4 linked regions of the Homo sapiens genome follow. The protein of the gene in region 3 purifies or fractionates together with the protein of the main gene of each other region. This does not show direct contact. Each region holds a gene or a part of one and is shown on either strand. Other genes may lie near its edges.

Evidence for each region.
Region 1: the proteins of ZNF765 (region 3) and ARK2N purify together in Homo sapiens (co-immunoprecipitation; one large-scale study listed by IntAct). This does not show direct contact.
Region 2: the proteins of ZNF765 (region 3) and PPM1G purify together in Homo sapiens (co-immunoprecipitation; one large-scale study listed by IntAct). This does not show direct contact.
Region 4: the proteins of ZNF765 (region 3) and TRIM37 purify together in Homo sapiens (co-immunoprecipitation; one large-scale study listed by IntAct). This does not show direct contact.

The regions. Positions count from the first base shown.
Region 1 is NC_000018.10:46,240,034-46,243,533, reverse strand, and holds part of ARK2N (protein ARK2N), read right to left. Parts: coding exon 3,347-3,500; intron 1-3,346. UniProt on the Homo sapiens protein: AMPK substrate important for exercise capacity and skeletal muscle function.
Region 2 is NC_000002.12:27,399,592-27,403,091, forward strand, and holds part of PPM1G (protein phosphatase 1G), read right to left. Parts: intron 1-3,500.
Region 3 is NC_000019.10:53,401,649-53,405,148, reverse strand, and holds part of ZNF765 (zinc finger protein 765), read right to left. Parts: intron 3,085-3,500; coding exon 2,958-3,084; intron 1-2,957. UniProt on the Homo sapiens protein: May be involved in transcriptional regulation.
Region 4 is NC_000017.11:59,100,381-59,103,880, forward strand, and holds part of TRIM37 (E3 ubiquitin-protein ligase TRIM37), read right to left. Parts: intron 1-3,500. UniProt on the Homo sapiens protein: E3 ubiquitin-protein ligase required to prevent centriole reduplication. Probably acts by ubiquitinating positive regulators of centriole reduplication.

The DNA of each region.
Region 1 (3,500 bases), on a different chromosome or scaffold from region 3:
ATATATATTTTGGATGCAAGATAATCATCTAATTGCTTGGAAAAAGGCAACCTACTCTATCTTTAGTGCGTACCTATGTGATCCTAAATGGGATGGGGCTGTGGACCTGGGTTGAGATGCTGCTGTTGATTAAAGTGAACCCCTGAATAGTCTGCTCAATAACTAGGCTTGCTATTTTGTTGTGAAAGGGAAAGACAGGACCCAGATTAACCATTAAAATTTTAACTTACACTCACACCATAAGAATGACCATCTGACTAATAGTCCAAGCCTCAAAACTATTAACTGGCTCCTAAGCATAAATTCTATTAATATTTTATTGAGACACTGTAAGCACATTCAGATATCTTCACAAGATGAGTTCCACTATGATAATCACATCAAGACTACAGTATTATTTTTATTTATTACCCACATACCAGTATTGTCAGATTTAAGAAAAAAAAATGCCTTTGAAAGAGCCAATAAGCTTCATAACAAAATGTCATGGGGATCTGCTGAGCAGTGGTGACTGCATCCTATGATATACAGAAACCTACACAAAATTTATAGTCCAATATGCACAAATGCTCTCTCTATATATTAATTATATCCTAGAGAAATTATCATATACATATACCAAAAAACACATAAAGAAATGTTAAGAGCAGTATCACTTAAAATAGCACCCTAAATGTCCAACAAGAGAATGGGTAAATTGTGATATATTCATATAGTGGAATACTAAATAGCAGTGGAAAATGAATGAACTAGAGCCACACATAACAACAACAAAACTCATAAAATGTTTAACTAAAAAAGCACATTTCAAATGATTACCTTCAATGTGATACCAATTAGTTTTAAAAACATGCTTATTTAGATATATAACAAATGTAGTACAAATATATAAAGAAATACACAGGAATACCACACATTAAATATCCAATTTAGGATAGCTTTGGCATGGGAAGGGCAAAGGGAAGGAAAACATCTGAAGCCACAGTTGTTTTCCTCCTCACATACTTTTACCACGTTTTATTTCTTAAAAAGAATGGTTGTAGTTTCTTAAGAGTGATTTTTAAATAGGCTAACAATTACTTGAATCTGAAAATGTGAATGCCATCCCAAAAGCTAAACTTTAATGATATTTTAAAACCGCAAACTTTGCATTATTCGGTCAAGTCATAAGAAATGGCTGATTTTTTGTAGGTCAAAAAGTCAAATATTAACAATTCCATACGGTTCAATCTAATATTAAGAATTCTGCATATGAAGAGCAAAACGTTGGTAATCATTCATTTTTTACCCCAAAACTTTACCATAAAATGGTCTATATTTAACGGCAAGACTCAGAAAACAGAGAAATAAAACTGAAGTGGAATGGATGACTTAATTGCCAAAGGATGAAAAACAAAGATAAACCATCTAATATACAAATTACAAGGCTGGGTGCAGTGGTTCACGCCTGTAATCCCAGCACTTTGGGAGGCCAAGGCAGGCGGATCATCTGAGGTCAGGAGTTCCAGAGCAGCCTGGCTAACATGGTAAAACCCCATTTCTACAAAAAATTAGCCAGGCGTGGTGGTGCGCGCCTGTAATCCCAGCTACTCAGGAGCCTGAGGCAGGAGAATCGCTTGAACCCAGGAGGCGGAGGTTGCAGTGAGCTGAGATCGCGCCATTGCACTCTGGCTTGGGCAACAAGAGCGAAACTCCATCTCAAATAAATAAATAAATAAATAAATAACTTAGAAACACATATTGTACAAAATGTGGCCAAACTACTTTCCACTGATATAAAGCATTATTACTTCTTTTTTCTTTTTTGGGGGGATACAGTCTAGTTTTGTCACCCAGGCTGGAGTGCAGTGGCACAATCTTAGCTCACTGCAACCTCTGCCTCCCAGGTTCAAGCAATTCCACAGCTGAGATTACAGGCGCCCACCACCACGCCCACCACCACACCCATCACGCCCAGCTAATTTTTGTATTGTTAATAGAGACGGGGTTTCACCATGCTGATCAGGCTGGTCTTGAACTCCTGACCTCAAGTGATCCTCCCACGTCGGCCTCCCAAAGTGCTGGGCTTACAGACGTGAGCCACTGTGCCCAGAAGCATTATTACTTCTTTTCAAAGTATTTGTATTAATACATATTAATAAATCCTTAAAAGACACTTGTTGGGCAAAACAAGGATTTATACATATAAAAACTGAAGTCCAGAGGAGAAACAACTGGTCCAAGGACAAACAGGCAGCAGTTACCAGTCAAAAAAAATCAAAACTAAATTCAGGTTCAGTTCCAAAATTAGCTACAGTAAATCAATCAGGTCAACAAACAAGTGATTTTTCTGTAATTCCAATCAAAGATTATGAAAGGAATAATTTAAGACAACAACAATCAATGGAGTTCTGTCTCAATATAAAAAGTTCTAAACTATAACTCATTTTTTTGTAAAACTCATTTTTCATAAAAATAACTTTAGGTAGTGATTAAACTATTAGATTAACTCATAAAACCAATGCATTTATAAATTAACTAGAAAACTATAATCTTTCAGCAACACTGAAGAAATTATACACTGCATAAGCAGTCTCTCAATCCCCTTCTCTTCTTAAATGTTCAGTGCTAGTATTTTCACAACAACAACAAAACAAGGTTTAAATTAGAATGCTGAAAGAAACTTTTGAAGAAAATATTGAAGAAGACTTGGAGGTATTGTGAAAGTTTTTCAAAGGTAACAGCAGTGGATTTTTTAGTGAATAAATACCACCTTAAAGAATAATCACAAAACTAAAAAAATGTAAGACAGGGACAGAGATTTTTTTTCCTGAGCTAACAGAGACAGAAACTAAAAGAAAGGAGTTAGAAAAGACAAATGAGAACTTACTGACGAGGAATTAACAGGGTCACTCCACAGCAAGAAGCACAAGAAACAGCGGCAGCGCTGTGTATGAACAGCCAGCCCCACAGGGAGAGATTCAACGATTCCCTATCCAAGCTGCAAGGTCACTACCCAGAATTAAAGTGAGAGAAAGAACTGGCCAAAGAATATGAGCATATCTGGGTCATTTTTGCAAATATTGGGCATTTTTAATCCAAGAAATATGCCTACTGAAACCTACCAATACCTACAATTAATGTCTTAAATGCTCTTATTTCTACTTCCTTCTGAGTAGGAAAGATGAATGACAAGCTATCCAAATTGTTTCAGGTATAAATGGCAGCCTGGATAGTCACAACCAATCATTCAATGCCAGATGTCTCTGGTATGACCTGTTCTCCTCATCAGGGTCCACTACAAGGAAAACAGCTCCAGGACACATGCATATTACACCGTTAGAGAAGGGGGATGGGGAAGACCAACCTGCCTCTGCATTCAGCTCCTCTAGAAGCCCGCTGGTCCTCCAGGTAGCTCCTGTGTCCTGGCCGCCTACAGAATTACTGTGCTCTTGAACTACTGCAGCCGCCAATAAATTGTCCACATTTACCACTTCTGGGTCAGAGTTGGTGTCAGACAT
Region 2 (3,500 bases), on a different chromosome or scaffold from region 3:
TGAATCTGGACAGAGTGAGATTCTGTCTCAAACAAAAAGTTCAAACATCATTAGCCATTTAGCCATCAGAGAAATACAAATCAAAACTACAATGAGATACCATCTCACACCCACCATTAGTTATTATAAAAAAGGTGGATAAGTGTAGTGAACATGTGAAGGAACTGGCATCCTCATATATTGCTGGCAGGAATGTACGACGGTACAGCAACTTTGGAAAACAGTTTAGCAGTTTCTCAAAATGTTAAACACGTAGTTACCATATGACCCAGCACTTCCACTCTTTGGTATATAACCAAGAGATATGAGGACATATTTCCACACAAAAATTTGTACATAGTATCACTATTTATAATAGCAAAAAAAAAAAAAAAAAGTGGAAATCCAAAATGTCTATCAACTAATGAATGGATAAACAAAATGTGACAAATCCATACCATGGAATATTATTCAACCATAAAAAAGAACGAAACACTGATTGATTCATGACACAACATTGATGACCCTTAAAAATATTACGCTTGGCCGGGCGTGGTGGTTCATGCCTGTAATCCCAGCACTTTGGGAGGCCGAGGCAGGCGGATTGCCTGAGCTCAGGAGTTCGAGACCGCCCTGGGCAACACAGCGAAATCTCGTCTCTACTAAAATACACACAAAAAATTTAGCCGGGTGTGATGGTGGGTACCTGTAGTCCCAGCTACTCGGGAGGCTGAGGCAGGAGAATCGCTTTAACCCAGAAGGTGGAGGTTGCAGTGAGCTGAGATCGCATCACTGCACTCCAGCCTGGGCGACAGAGGGAGACCCTGTCCCCAAAAATAAAAAATTAAAATTAAAAAATTATGCTTAGGCACAACTATGATACATCAACTGAAAAATATCAGGCTGGGTGTGGTGACTCATGCCTGTAATTCCAGCACTTTGGGAGGCTGAGGTGAAAAGATTCCTTGAGGCCAGGGGTTCAAGGCCAGCCTGGACAACACAGTAAGACCCTGTCTCCATGAAAATAAATGAATAAACAACAATAATTAAAACTGACCTCCTGGAGATAAGAAAAAGAGTTAACTAGGAGATAAGAGAAAATTCAAGAATTGTTAAGTCATTAATTTGAGATGGAGTTCTGGGTCTTTTGCTTCCCTTCCATCAACTAAGTGAGGAAGGTTCCAACAGAAACAAATGGGAGTGCCTAAAAGAAAACTAGCATCTCTTTCCTGGTTACACAGGCAACAGACTTGGTGATCTGCCTGAGCTCTGTCTATCTGAACAGAAGGAGAGAATTTTAAAAAGTGCCCACTGGAGCCTGAACCATCCTGCTGGTATCCATCCAAAGGAGTCCAGCAGTATGAGGTCAAGGATACACAGCAGGTGGTAAAAGCCACAGAAAAGTCTAAAAACCAAAAGTGGAGATCAAGTCCCTCTGGGCCAGGCCTGGCTATTGCTGCAAACACAGAGATGGTGAGTGATAACTGGATATGAGACTGGAGTTTTAAAGAGATTTCTGATTCTATTAAGCTCTGTAAAATAAAACCTGCAAGGCACTGATCTAGAAAGAAGCAAAAGAACCTTGGGTCAGCAAAATACTTATTCTTAAATCTACTACAACAATGTATGTGTGATTTTTTTAAAAAGAAACTTACAGGCAAAGCTGAGGGGTAGAGGGAATACTTGGGGTGGAGAGTAATTTACTCTTCCAGGGGCCAACAAGCTTTAAAGTCAATTTCAAAAATACACATGCTTAGTAAAAGCATCCAGATATAAAAGGTAGTGTATTTAGAATTCCATTTATAAAATGTTCAGAATAGGCAAATTCATAGAGGTCATGTAAATTAGTGGATGCCAGGGGTTAGTGGACGGAAGATAGGGAGTGACTGGTAAAGAGTACAGGGTTTCTTTTTGGGGTTCTAAAACTGATTGTGGTGACAGTTGTACAACTCTGTTTGAATACACTACAAAACAGGCAGGCACGGTGGCTCATGCCTGTAATCCCAGCACTTTGGGAGGCTGAGGCAGGCAGATCACTTGAGGCCAGGAGTTCGAGACCAGCCTGGGCAACATGGTGAAACCCTGTTTCTACTGAAAATATAAAAATTAGCTGGGTGTGGTGGCGTGAGCCTGTAGTTCCAGCTACTCAGGATGCTGAGGCAAGAGAATTCGCTTGAACCTGGGAGGTGGAGGTTGCAGTGAGCTGAGGCTGCGTCACTGCACTCCAGCCTGGGTAACAGAGCAAGACCCTGTCTCGAAAAAAGAAAAAAAGAAGAAAAAAAAGAAAATATACTAAAAGCCACTGAATTATACCCTTAAAATGAATGAATTATACCCTTAAACCCACTGAATTATACTCTTAAAGTGAGTTCATATACTGTATGGTATATGAACCATATGTGGTATGAACCATACAGTATATGAACTCTATCTCAATAAAGCTGATTAAAAAGGAACCTGTAAGAAATAAATAAAATAAAAAGGAACCTGTATACACATTTTCAAATACTAAATATGATTAAAAGGTGTTGTTTTTCTGCTAGCATTGGGTCAAAAAGGAAAAAAAAGTTGATATACTTCATCTCTGAACTAGATCTAGAAAGAAACAAAAACAACTACACTGAAATCATACTCTGTCTACAAAATGTCATTAAACATCTTAAGCTCAGTTCTAAAGATTTGTTTCCAGATAATACAATGTCAAGAACTACTGATCAGACCTGTATAAATTTCTATGTTCAAATTCAAGCCCTTACCTCTCAAAATTCAATTCTAAGACTAATAACCCAATAGAAGATTAGAGGTTAGGGAAACAGTAGTAACAACTGCTAAGGAATCAGACAATAGAACTTTGTGTAAAATATCCTTGAAATCTTGAGGAATACGTTCTGATTGTATTTTCCAGTTGCTTGAGAACTTATAAGGCAATGGTATAAAATATAAAATAATTTCTAGACCAGGCATGGTGGCTCACACCTGTAATCCCAGCACTTTGGGAGGCCGATGTGGGTGGATCACGAGGTCAGGAATCGAGACCATCCTGGCTAACATGGTGAAACCCCGCCTCTACTAAAAACACACACAAAAAATTAGCCAGGCGTGGTGGCGGGCGCCTGTAGTCCAGCTACGCGGGAGGCTGAGGCAGGAGAATGGCATGAACCCGGGAGGCGGAGCTTGCAGTAGCTGAGACCGCGCAACTGCACTCCAGCCTGGGTGACAGTGTAAGACTCCATCTCAATAAATAAATAAATAAATAAATAAATAAATAAATAAATAAATAAATAAAATAAACATAAATAAAATTCCTCAGCCTGGGCAACACTGCAAGGCCCTATCTCTACAAAAAAAAACTTAAAAAAAAAAAATTAGCCAGTCATGGTGGCATGTGCCTATATTAGGCTGAGGCTGGAAGACCCCTTGAGCCCAGAAGGCTATGCAGTGAACTATGATCGAGCCACTGTAAAGGCAGATAAGTGTAGTGAGGATGTGAAGGAACCGGCACAAGAAATCCCATACTCCTT
Region 3 (3,500 bases):
AACTCCTGACCTCAGGTGATCTGCCCCTCTCGGCCTCCCAAAGTGCTGGGATAACTGGCTTGAGCCACCGTGCCCGGCCAAATTCTTGTATTTAGTAGATTTGAGGTTTCACCATGCTGGCAAGACTGGTCTCAAACTCCTGACTTCAAGCGATCTGCCCACCTTGGCATCCCAAACTGTTGGGATTAGAGGTGTGAGCCACCTCGGGTGGCCAGTCTAAGCTATTTCTGACAGTGAAATGACTGAGGCAGGAACAGGAGCATCTCATCATCAACATCACTGAAGGCTGACAAATCTGATTAAACAAAGGAAGTTTAGAGCCTGTACCATAAATCTTGCAATACCTGAAGCCATCTATAGCAATTACGTGTTTTAAAAACTTTGAGGCTGGCCAGGCATGGTGGTTCACGCCTGTAATCCCAGCACTTTGGGAGGCTGAGGCAGGAGGATCACGAGGTCAGGAGATGAAGAACATACTGGCTAACAGGGTGAAACCCCATTTCTACACAAACACACACACACACACACATTAGCCAGGTGTGGTGGCATGTGCCTGTAGTCCCAGCTACTTGGGAGACTGAAGCAGGAAAATCACTTGAACCTGGGAGGCAGAGGCTGCAGTTAGCCAAGATCGCACCACCGCACTCCAGCCTGGGTGACAGACCGAGACTCCGTCTTAAAAAGAAAAAAAGAAAGAAATGAAAGAATTCTAAAGAGTATCTCCAACCCACAAATATATATAAAGTTCTCCAGTAAAGGTAAATAAAAAGACAGGCCGGGCACGGTGGTTCACACCTATAATCCCAGTAGTTTAGGAGGCCGAGGTTGGTGGATCACTTTAGGGCAGGGGTTCGAGACCAGCCTGACCAAAAAGGAGAAAGCCTGTGTCTACTAAAATACAAAATTAGCTAGGTGTGGTGGCACATGCCTGTAATCCCAGCTACTCAGGACACTGAGGCAGGAGAATCACTTGAACCTGGGAGTTGGAGGTTGGAGTGACCCGAGATTGTGCCATTGCACTCCAGCATGGGCGACAAGAACAAAACTTCATCTCATCAACAAAGAAATAAATAAATGAATAGGCAAATAACAGGACACATACAGAAACTGGTGTAAGTATACCTTCTCTAGATAATTCAACTTTTTTTTCTGTTATTTAGAAGAAAAAAGCATGAAAAAACACTACATATATGTTAATGCGAATGCAACATACAGAGAAATAATTCTGACATAAATACAGAGTTCTAGTAGAGAAAGAGTGGCTTTTGCAGGTTATGGAATTTTGTTGTTGTTGTTTTTTTTTTTTTGAGACAGAGTCTCGTGCTGTCACCCAGGCTGGAGGGCAGTGGCACAATCTCGGCTCACTTCAACCTCCACCTCCAGGGTTCAAGCGACTCTCCTGCATTAGACTCTTGAGTAGCAGGATTACAGGCGCCCACCACAGTGTCCGGCTAATTTGTGTGTTTTAGTAGAGACGGAGTTTCGCCATGTTAGGCAGGCTGGTTTTGAACTCCTGACCTCAGGTGATTTGCCTGCCTCGGCCTCCCGAAGTGCTGGGATTACAGGCGTGAGCCACTGGGGCACAAAAATTGTTTGAGCCTGAAAGGCGGAGCCGGCTGCGGTGAGCCAAGATCGTACCATTGAACTGTAGCCTTGGGGACAGAGTAAGACTCCATCATAAACAAACAAACAAACAAAAGTCAATAAGAAGGGAGTCAAAGCATGTCTACACAAAAAAGCAAATAAACACAAAAGTAGTAAATGAGAAATGAAGAACAAAAAAACCTACAATAAATACAGATAATATGTAACAGAATCACAAGGGTAAGGTCTTCTCCATCAGTAATACTTCAACTGTAAGTATTTAATCTGCACTCAGAAGGCAAAGACTGGCTGAATCAACAGGAATCAACTACATGTTGTCTACAAGAGACTCACAGACTCAGCCTTAAGGACACACATATGAAATTTTTTTTTCTTTTTTTTTTTGAGACAGAGTCCCGCTCTGTCGCCAGTCTGGAGTGCAGTGGCAATCTTGGCTCACTGCAACCTCTGACTCCCAGGTTCATGTGATTTTGTTGTCTCAGCCTGGATTACAGGCACGTGCCACCACACCTGGCTAATTTTTGTATTTTTAGTAGAGAGGGGGTTTCACCCTGTTGGCCAGGGTGGTCTTGATCTCCTGACCTCGTGATCCACCCACCTCAGCCTCCCGAAGTGCTGGGATTACAGGTGTGAGCCACCATGCCCAGCTGCACATATGCAAAAATTTTTAAAATAAAAGCCAATAATTAGGTATGGGGTTTGGCACCTGTAATCCCAGCTACTCGGGAGACTAAGGAGGATCTCTGGAGCCCAGGAGATCAGGATGAATTTCAACAACACAGCAAGACCCTGTCTGGAAAAAAAACAAACTAAAAAAGTTGCCCGACATGGTGGCATGCACCTGTACCAGCTACCAGGGGAGGCTCAGGTGGGACAATCACTTGAGCCCAGGAATTCAAGATTGCAGTGAGCCATGATCACACCATTGTACTCCACCCGGGCTGACAGAGAGAGACACTTTATCTAAAAACAAGAGAAAATATAGGCCGGGCACGGTGGCTTATGCCTGTAGTCCCAGCACTTTGGGAGGCCGAGGTGTGTGGATCACGAGGTCAGGATTTCAAGGCCATCCTGGCTAACATGGTGAAACTCCGTCTCTAGTAAAAAATAGTACAAAAAATTAGCCAGGCATGTTGGTGGGTGCCTGTAGTCCCAGCTACTTGGGAGGCTGAAGTAGGAGAATGGCGTGAACCCGGGAGGCGGAGCTGGCCGTGAGCCGAGATCATGCCACAGCACTCCAGCCTGGGCGACAGAGCGAGACTCCATCTCAAAAAAAAAAAAAAAAAAAAAAAAAAGGAGAGAAAATACAAAGATACGCAAGGGCACATCCCCAGGAGGGAAGTCATCCTCACCCAGGGAGACCAGGTTCCTATAATTCTCCAGCATCACGTCCCTGTATAGAGTCCTCTGAGCAGGGTCCAGGCATTTCCACTCCTCCTGAGAGAATTCTATGGCCACATCCCTGAATGTCAATAGACCCTGAAATGAAAACACATTTTAACCAAATGGTTATGGGAGGAGTTCTTATCTTTACAGAAAATGAGAAGAAGAGAGAGGTGAAGGCATGGATTTAAATGCAGTGAATGTTCTAACAAATCTGAGTAAGGGATTTTTCACCGCATTTTGTCTTCCCAGTTGTGTTTACTAAAGTTCTTTTTTTTTTTTTTAAAGGTGGAGTCTCACTCTGTTGCCCAGCCTGGAGTGCAATGGCACAGTCTCTGCTCAATGCAACCTCCAAGTCCCAGGATCAAACGATTCTCCTGCCTTAGCCTCCTGAATAGCTGAAATTATAGGCACGTGCCACCACGACCAGTTAATTTTTGTATTTTTAGCAGAAACGGGGTTTCACCATATTGCCCAGTTTGGTCTCAAACTCCTGACCTCCTGATCTGCCT
Region 4 (3,500 bases), on a different chromosome or scaffold from region 3:
TGGTAAATACATACAATGGAATACTACTTAGCAATAAAAAGGAATACTACTGATACATACAGTATTTTTGCTGAGTGAAAAAAAGCCAGATCCGTAAGAGTACATATTGTATGATTTTCATTTGTATAAAATTCCAAAACATGCAAACTTATCTTTTTTCTCTTTTTCCATCCCCCTTATCTCTGAAGCAAACTTATCTATCGTGACAGAAAGCAGATCAATGGTTGCCTGGGGACAAGGCAAGTAGAGGGAGGAATTACCAAGAGGCACAAGGAAACTTTTGGGGATGACAGATATATTCACTAACTTGGATGCAATGATTGTCTCACAAGAATACATATATGTCAAAACTGTACACTTGGCCAGGCTCAGTGACTCACATCTGTAATCCTAGCACTTTGGGAGGCTGAGGTGGGTGGATCACCTGAGGTCAGGAGTTTGAGACCAACCTGACCAACATGGTGAAACCCTGTTTCTACTAAAAATACAAAATTAGTCAAGCGTGGTGATGCATGCCTATAATCCCAGCTACTTGGGAGGCTGAGGCAGGAGAATCACTCGAACCCAGGAGATGGAGGTTGCAGTGAGCGGAGATCGCGTCATTGCACTCCAGGCTGGGCAACAAGAGCAAAACGCCGTCTCAAAAAAAAAAAAAAAAGAACAAAACAAACAAAAAAACTGTACACTTTAAATATGTGTAGTTTACTGCATGTCAGTTATACCTAATAAAAAATGACTGGCTTGAAAACAAGTAGGCAAGCAATCAATATTTGCTGAATGAATGAACAAATGATTAGTGCATTCAGGAACCAAGACAGCCCTAGAAAGAAAGGTCAGAACCAGATCTGGATGGTCTGAACACAAGGCTAACATTCTTGGATTTTATCCTTTACATAATACATTTCTGAGGCTTCTGGGGAAAAGAAAGAGATATCAGTGAAAAATATTAATATAGTAGCAGGACAGAAAATGGACTGGAGATAAGAAAAGACTCAAACCTGAGAGATCAGACAGAAAGTAATTAAATAATCTAAGCATGAGGTAACCAATGTTCATACTTCTCTATTAGCATGGTAATGATAAAAACAGAAGGGTAAGACAAATATAAGTGAAACAGGGAGATAATAACTAATTGCACTTAAAAATCATTGGTATAGGCCAGAGGCAGCGGCTCATGCCTGTAATCCCAGCACTTTGGGAGGCCAAGGAGGGAAGATCAGTTGAGGTCAGGAGTTTGAGACCAGCCTGGGCAACATAGTGAAACCCCATCTCTACAAAAAAAAAAAAAAAAAAAAAAATATATATATATATATATACACACACACACACACACACACACACATATATACATATACATGTTTATATATATACATATATACACACACATATATACATATATATATACAAAAATAGCCGGGCATCATGGAGTGCGCTGATACTCCCAGCAACTTGAGAGGCTGAGGCAGGAAAATCTCTTGAACCTGGGAGGCGGAGGTCGTAGTGACCCAAGATCACGCCACTGCACTTTAGCCTGGGCAACAGAGCAAGAATCCATCTCAAAAAAAAATAAAAAATAAAAAATAAAAAAATCATTGGTATAAAGTTTCCAGTTTGAGTGACTAGCAGAACAGAACAAAAAGAATGAACTTAGAATCGGTTTGAGAAAATAATATGAATAATCTGATCTTGAACAAAGTTCAAGATGCTAGAAGGACAAGACATCCAAAAGTCAGTGCTGAAGGAATAGATTTAGGAGCCATACACACAGAGATGATAGCTAAAGCTGCTAAAGTAAATCAAATTTCCCAAAGTAGGTGAATACTCCCAGAAACCTCAGAGTAGAGAACGACAGCAACAAGATCTTAGGAAATTAAGAAATAAATGCATTTAAGGGGCAGGAGGAAGAAGATGTAACAATGAAAAAATACAGAATCAATGAGGCATAAGGTAACAACCAGAGACCATAAGCACATGGGACCTTCATCAAAAGAAATGCGCCCAGATCCAGATTCTACCACTTAATTAACTATAACGGAGTCCAATTACTTAATTTATCTAGCATCAGTTTCACTGTTTATTAAAACATGGGTAAGTGTTAATGTGTATTAGTTGCTATTTTAACAATAAAATAACACCTTACAAACAAGTAGATATAGTATTTCATAATTTCTGAATTACTCCTTAGGTTATCTCATTTAATGCCATAACCACCCTGTAAAGCAAATCATATCTGAATTCTACAGCTGAAGAAAGAAGGCCAAGAAAGAGTGAATCTCTTAGTTTTAGAAGTATGAGAACTAACATCATATTTAACTGGGTCTTCTGCGCATGGTACAGTGACAAAGAACAGGCTATAGAGTTCTTGAACTTAATGGGTTCAAATCCAGTACCATCAATTGTGAGCTGTGTGACTAGAAAAAAATTATTTAAGTGTTACGGATAATACTCTTGACAAAGGCATATGTATCTTCCTTAGGCAAGAATAAGGAAACAGAAATTTTTTTTTTTTTTGAGACGAAGTCTCGCTCTGTCGCCAGGCTGGAGTGCAGTGGCACCATCTCTGCTCACTGCAACCTCTGCCTCCCGGGTTCAAGTGATTCTCCTGTCTCAGCCTCTCGAGTAGCTGGGACTACAGGAGCATGCCACCATGCCTGGCTAATTTTTGTATTTTTAGCAGAGACAGGGTTTCACCATATTGGTCAGGATGGTCTCGAACTCCTGACCTCAGGTGATCCACACACCTCAGCCTCCCAAAATGCCGGGATTACAGGCGTGAGCTACCTACTGCGCCCAGCTGAAACAGAAAGTTTGAGGTGAAGAGCATGTGACCTCTTTGATTTTCTCAGGAAAATAAATAATTGAAGGGGAATGTGAACAAGGCAGTTTTCAACTATGCTCTGTAGATGTGCTATTGGACTCTCGCATACACAACCAAAATCTTGGACTTCCTCATTTTGTTATTTTGTTTTTTGTTTTTTTGAGACAGAGTCTCGCTCTGTCACCCAGGCTGGAGTGCACTGGCATGATCTCGGCTCACTGCAACCTCCGCCTCCTGGGTTCAAGCGATTCTCCTGCCTCAGCCTCCTGAGTAGCTGGGATTACAGGCACACACCACCATGCCCAGCTAATTTTTGTATTTTTAGTAGAGATGGGGTTTCACCATGTTGGTCAGGCTGTTCTCGAACTCCTGACACCATGATCCACCCGCCTCGGCCTCCCAAAGTGCTGGGATTACAGGCCTGGGCCACCGCGCTCAGGCCAACATTCAAGTTTTTTTTTTTTTTTTGAGACGGAGTCTCACTCTGTCGCCAGGCTGGAGTGCAGTGGCGCTCTCTCGGCTCACTGCAACCTCTGCCCTCCCGGGTTCAAACAATTCTCCTGCCTCAGCCTCCCAAGTAGCTGGGACACAGGTACATGCCACCATGCCCAGCTAATTTTTGTATTTTTAGTAGAGACAGGGTTTCACCATGTTGGCCAGGATGGTCTCGATCTCTTGACCT